Linked DNA regions of Homo sapiens. The protein of the gene in region 1 purifies or fractionates together with the protein of each later gene. This does not show direct contact. Each region holds a gene or a part of one and is shown on either strand. Other genes may lie near its edges.

Evidence for each region.
Region 2: the proteins of CREG1 (region 1) and THY1 purify together in Homo sapiens (co-immunoprecipitation; one large-scale study listed by IntAct). This does not show direct contact.

The regions. Positions count from the first base shown.
Region 1 is NC_000001.11:167,547,004-167,550,825, reverse strand, and holds part of CREG1 (protein CREG1 precursor), read left to right. Parts: intron 1-2,704; coding exon 2,705-2,824; intron 2,825-3,822.
Region 2 is NC_000011.10:119,417,337-119,420,256, reverse strand, and holds part of THY1 (thy-1 membrane glycoprotein isoform 1 preproprotein), read left to right. Parts: coding exon 1-206; intron 207-736; coding exon 737-849; 3' UTR 850-2,920. UniProt on the Homo sapiens protein: May play a role in cell-cell or cell-ligand interactions during synaptogenesis and other events in the brain.

The DNA.
Region 1 (3,822 bases):
ATACATTCTCTTCTAGTCCTTACTAGGACTCACTTCCAGATGTGTGTCCATTTCTGACCTCTTCAAAGTTCTCTATATTTCTGCTTGCTGTTCATTTTTGCTTCGTTACTTTGCCACCACTTCAAATTCAACATGTTTAAATCCAGTCCTTCTTCCTCCTGAAACAAGCTGCTTTTGATCTTCTGCATTTCTGTTAGTGGAATTATTGTTTTCTCAGTAAACCCAGTTGGTTCTCACTGCCTCCCCAAATCCCTCAGTTCCCAAGTCCTGACAGTTTTTTGTTGCCTTCTTTACCTCTGTCCTTGCCCCTTCCTCTTCATTCCTGCCACCTCATCCTTAAGCTTATCATCTCATGCCTAAAAGTACTAGAACAGCTCTTACATAGTCTTCCTGTCTGCCCCATCCACCTTGCCTACCCAAATAGATTAACAAAAATACCTGTCACAGCATTGCCCTCTGGCCAGAAACCTTTAACAATACCCAGCTGCCTATAGCTGCGTAAGAGCTACCTGGGATGTTTGTTTAAAATGCATATAGAGGCGGGTGCGGAGGCTCCAGCCTGTAATCCCAGCACTTTGGGAGGTCGAGGTGAGCGGATCACCTGAGGTCAGGAGTTTGAGACCAGCCTGGCCAATATGGTGAAACCCACCTCTACTAAAAATACAAAAATTAACTGGGTATGGTGGTGTACGACCGTAGTCCCAGCTATTTGGGAGGCTGAGTTGAGAGCATCAGTTGAGCCTGGGAGGCAGAGGTTGCAGTGAGCTGAGATCACGCCATTGCACTCCAGCCTGGGTGACAGAGCTTGATTCTGTTTCTAAATAATAAAATGCAGATAGAGGACAGCTTGGTGGCTCATGCCTGTAATCCCAACACTTTGGAAGGCCGAGGTGGGAGGATCACTTGAGTCTAGGATTTTGAGACCAGCCAGGGCAACACAGTGAAACTCCATGTCTACAAAAAATAAAAAAATATTAGCCGGGTGTGGTGATGCACATCTATAGTTCCAGCTACTCAGGAGGATGAGATGGGAGGATCACATGAGCCCTGGAGGTTGAGGCCACAATGAGCCATGATTGTGCCACTGCACTGGGTGGCTGCCTGGGTGACAGAGTGAGACACTGTCTTAAAAAAAATATTGCAGGCCAGGTGCGGTGTCTCACGCCTGTAATCCCAGCACTTTGGGAGGCCGAGGTGGGTGGATCACAAGGTCAGGAGTTCAAGACCAGCTTGGCCAACATGATGAAACCCAGTCTCTACTAAAAATACAAAAATCAGCTGGGCGTGGTGGCACACACCAGTAATCCCAGCTACTCGGGAGGCTGAGGCAAGAGAATCGCTTGAACTTGGGAGTTGGAGGTTGCAGTGAGCTGAGATCGCACCACTGCACTCCAGCCTGGGTGACAGAGCAAGACTCCGTCTCAAAAAAAAAAAACAAAAAAAAATTGCAGTTATTTGGGTTGGGAGTGAAGCCTGTTTCAACATTTTAACCCAAATCAGCATTTTATCAAGCTCTCCAGGCAGGTGGTTCTTAGAAAACAGTGCCTAAGGTTGGCCCACAAATTACAATCTAGACTCCTTAACTTAGGTTGGAGCCCTCTCCACTCCCAACCCCAGGCTCCTCCCGTAGGAAAGCCCTTCTTTCCAGCAAATCAGGTTTCTTGGTACTGTTCATCAAGTCTTAGGCTCACCCAGTTCTGTGTTTTTTGCAGTCAGTGTCTCCTCTCCCTTTAATATGTCCTCCCACCTTCTATCCTGGTTTTGAATATATTATAAAGCTCCTTACAGTTCCTCTATCACTCTGGTCTATGCTGGACATACACATTTGTTTATGTCTGCCTTTTCAACCAGATTATAAACTCACGGAGGGAGAGAGTTTACCTGAGTGTCCCCCTCCCCTTCTTTGGTCTCCTGTGGTGCCTTGCCTAATAGTTTCTAGACAGTGACTATTTGGCTAAATGATTTCAAAGAAATCTCTTTATGACTCTTTGTTTTGATGGGTCAGTGTGAAATGGCAAAATTCTCCACACAAGGCACTTAGAGCTTAAAGAGCTAAATAGTCTAAAATGCGATGTGTGAATTTTGCTATAATCTGTCAACAGTGCCTTTTATGAAGTTGATTTCTGAATAAGAAAGCATTAAGAATTTTACTTGTGTTACTTTTTGAATGTGGGATAAAACTCATTGTTACTAAAGCAGGAATGAACAACTTCTCCAGTTTTGAAATCACATGACAGTTTCTGCTAATGTAAGATAACCAAGTAGCATGATTCAGCTACTTTCTTGCTTAAATCGCGTAGTTAGCCAATTGAGCAACTGTGGTGTTTTTAGCAATGGTTTTGTATAGAGTTTAACCCTTTAAATCTTTCAGTGAAGCCTATAGAACAGCCTTGAATTTGGGTGTCACTATAATTATAATTCTTCTGATGAATATGGAATAAATTCAGGGTTTCAGAAAAAGAATATTGAAATAATTTTTACCAAGTCAGTTCATTTTAAATATGAACCCCCGCACCCCCTTTGGGGAGTGGTCAGGATACTTTCCAAGTATTATTTTCCCCTGAGTGGAAGGTGATGTTTTATGATTCATTGTTTCGTGGAAGACCAGTCAAGCTCTAGGGACATCATGTATGCAACTTTTGAAATTTATTACCTCTCCAGAAACCATATTTCACATGAGAGGATCTTCATTTTCTCTCTATAGGAGAATCCATATGCTACACTGACCATGACTTTGGCACAGACCAACTTCTGCAAGAAACATGGATTTGATCCACAAAGTCCCCTTTGTGTTCACATAATGCTGTCAGGAACTGTGACCAAGGTAAGTAGTTATCCTACAGGAAGGGAGATGGTTTCAGAACACCATCGTATTCACAATGAAAGAATAGATCATTTTTCTTTTGAGACAGAGTCTCACTCTGTCTCCCAGGCTGGAGTGCAGTGGTGTGATCTCGGCTTACTGCAACCTCTGCCTCCTGGGTTCAAGCGAGTCTTGTGCCTCAGCCTCCCTAGTAGCTGGGATTACAGGCACGCACCACCACACCCAGCTAATTTTTGTATTTTTAGTAGAGATGGGGTTTCACCATGTTGGCCAGGCTGGTCTTGAACTCCTGACCTCAAGTGATCCACCCACCTCGACCTCCCAAAGTGCTGAGATTACAGGCGTGAGCCACTATGCCTGGCAGAATAGATCTTTTCAGAATGAAATGCAGTTGATTTGTGATTGCCATGCCCAGTCAGAACATGTTCTATTCTAATAGGTGAAGTAATTCCATGAAAACCAAACGTTTTAATAAGTTGCTTTCATATAGGTGTTAAATAAGATATGACAAAAATGAATGATTTTCTGAAGCCAAGCAGATGTAACAACTATGAAGCTCCTGTATATAAAGTTATTCTTACTAAAGAGCATCTGGTTGACCAAAGCCCTCTACTCTCCATTACATTTTACATTGGTATAATGTTTTTCCATGTCTGGGCTCCTTGTCTCCATATTTTAACAGTGGCTTAAAGCAGAGAAAACATATTAAGTAGGCCAACCAGAGGACTATCCATTACTGAAAACTGGAAGTGAATTTAGTTTGGATCACCTGCTGAAGGGAAGAGGTCAAATACAATCTCAGGAAGAGCAGTGGGCATGGTGTCAGGAGTGCTGATCTGATTACCCAGCCAGCAGATTTGCTTTTTGACCGTGTCAATCATTAATGCCTCAGACAAGTGTTATTTATGGTCTGTAAATTCTTTGTGGATGCATCTCTGTAGTTGAGTGTCCTTCACTGGCAGGAAAAAGATGGAGGAGCAGCACATGCTTTTGAGTTC
Region 2 (2,920 bases), on another chromosome or scaffold:
TGAGACAAAGAAGCACGTGCTCTTTGGCACTGTGGGGGTGCCTGAGCACACATACCGCTCCCGAACCAACTTCACCAGCAAATACAACATGAAGGTCCTCTACTTATCCGCCTTCACTAGCAAGGACGAGGGCACCTACACGTGTGCACTCCACCACTCTGGCCATTCCCCACCCATCTCCTCCCAGAACGTCACAGTGCTCAGAGGTGAGACAAGCCCCTAACAAGGTCAAGTGAGCTGGGAGAGCCAGGCTCGGGGACAGCAGGCAGTTCCCTTGGCTGGACTAGAGAGGAGAATAGCCCCATAACGCTCTCACCCTCTCCCAACTGCTGCCTGGTCAACTGGGGAACCATTGCCTTCGGTGTGAATGGGGTGAAGAGCTCAGGGCCAGACAGGCAGAGCAGTGTGGTTCCACCAGAACTGTGGGCAAGGCCTTTGGCCTCCCTAATCTTCCTTCTCCCAGCGGGAAAACAGGGATGACACCACCTCCCTCAGCCAGTTTTCTTGTCATGATGTTTAGTAAGGTTTTCATAAGATGATATGTGTGCAAGAGATCAGTAATCTGCAAATGGGAAAGATGGCTGGTTCTGTGAGACCGGGCTGTTCCTGGTCCCAGCTAAGACATTGCAGTACCCACCTCCCAAAGGGAGTACACCCTTGCTTTGGGCCTGTGCCTGCCTGAGTCCTGATCCGTCTTCCTTCCTACCCTGCCCCCGGCCCCCTTCTCTTTCTGCAGACAAACTGGTCAAGTGTGAGGGCATCAGCCTGCTGGCTCAGAACACCTCGTGGCTGCTGCTGCTCCTGCTCTCCCTCTCCCTCCTCCAGGCCACGGATTTCATGTCCCTGTGACTGGTGGGGCCCATGGAGGAGACAGGAAGCCTCAAGTTCCAGTGCAGAGATCCTACTTCTCTGAGTCAGCTGACCCCCTCCCCCCAATCCCTCAAACCTTGAGGAGAAGTGGGGACCCCACCCCTCATCAGGAGTTCCAGTGCTGCATGCGATTATCTACCCACGTCCACGCGGCCACCTCACCCTCTCCGCACACCTCTGGCTGTCTTTTTGTACTTTTTGTTCCAGAGCTGCTTCTGTCTGGTTTATTTAGGTTTTATCCTTCCTTTTCTTTGAGAGTTCGTGAAGAGGGAAGCCAGGATTGGGGACCTGATGGAGAGTGAGAGCATGTGAGGGGTAGTGGGATGGTGGGGTACCAGCCACTGGAGGGGTCATCCTTGCCCATCGGGACCAGAAACCTGGGAGAGACTTGGATGAGGAGTGGTTGGGCTGTGCCTGGGCCTAGCACGGACATGGTCTGTCCTGACAGCACTCCTCGGCAGGCATGGCTGGTGCCTGAAGACCCCAGATGTGAGGGCACCACCAAGAATTTGTGGCCTACCTTGTGAGGGAGAGAACTGAGCATCTCCAGCATTCTCAGCCACAACCAAAAAAAAATAAAAAGGGCAGCCCTCCTTACCACTGTGGAAGTCCCTCAGAGGCCTTGGGGCATGACCCAGTGAAGATGCAGGTTTGACCAGGAAAGCAGCGCTAGTGGAGGGTTGGAGAAGGAGGTAAAGGATGAGGGTTCATCATCCCTCCCTGCCTAAGGAAGCTAAAAGCATGGCCCTGCTGCCCCTCCCTGCCTCCACCCACAGTGGAGAGGGCTACAAAGGAGGACAAGACCCTCTCAGGCTGTCCCAAGCTCCCAAGAGCTTCCAGAGCTCTGACCCACAGCCTCCAAGTCAGGTGGGGTGGAGTCCCAGAGCTGCACAGGGTTTGGCCCAAGTTTCTAAGGGAGGCACTTCCTCCCCTCGCCCATCAGTGCCAGCCCCTGCTGGCTGGTGCCTGAGCCCCTCAGACAGCCCCCTGCCCCGCAGGCCTGCCTTCTCAGGGACTTCTGCGGGGCCTGAGGCAAGCCATGGAGTGAGACCCAGGAGCCGGACACTTCTCAGGAAATGGCTTTTCCCAACCCCCAGCCCCCACCCGGTGGTTCTTCCTGTTCTGTGACTGTGTATAGTGCCACCACAGCTTATGGCATCTCATTGAGGACAAAGAAAACTGCACAATAAAACCAAGCCTCTGGAATCTGTCCTCGTGTCCACCTGGCCTTCGCTCCTCCAGCAGTGCCTGCCTGCCCCCGCTTCGCTGGGGTCTCCACGGGTGAGGCTGGGGAACGCCACCTCTTCCTCTTCCCTGACTTCTCCCCAACCACTTAGTAGCAACGCTACCCCAGGGGCTAATGACTGCACACTGGGCTTCTTTTCAGAATGACCCTAACGAGACACATTTGCCCAAATAAACGAACATCCCATGTCTGCTGACTCACCTGGCTGGAACAACATGCTTACTGCCAACATGTGGGCCGAACCACATGGCCCTGGCTCTGGAATGCACAAGTGGCTTTGCGTGAATCTGCGCTAAGCTATGCAGTCTGCTTTTTCTTCTCAGCTCTGGTAGTTCTTCAGAAATGTACCCTCCAGGCACATCCACTATTGCGAGGGTGAGCACGAAGGGTGGGAGATGCCCATGTCCTCAAGGCATCACTTCCTAAATCCAAAAGCATCGGCAGGAGAAAGGACTGGGGACAAATACTGTCCCTTCGGGAGTAGGGAGGGAACACTGAGGCCCATCCCTGGCTCCTTCCCTAAAAGTAGAGTAAAATGGAAGCGAGCATCCTGGGATTGGGGGCAAGAGGGGGACCGCAGGGTAGCTGTGGGTTCCAACTGCTGTCAGAGTCAGAGAGGCAGCCCCAAGCCAGCCTCCCTGCTTTGCCAGGGAATTTGGGGGAGGAAGGTGACAGCTGCCCAGAGGCTGACTCATCTGATATTTAGCACTGGGTAGGATGATTGTTTCTGAGCATTTTTCTTAAAGGCCTCAGATCTAAATTATGCCACCGGCTCCCACTCTTGCTACCTCCCGTCAACTTCTC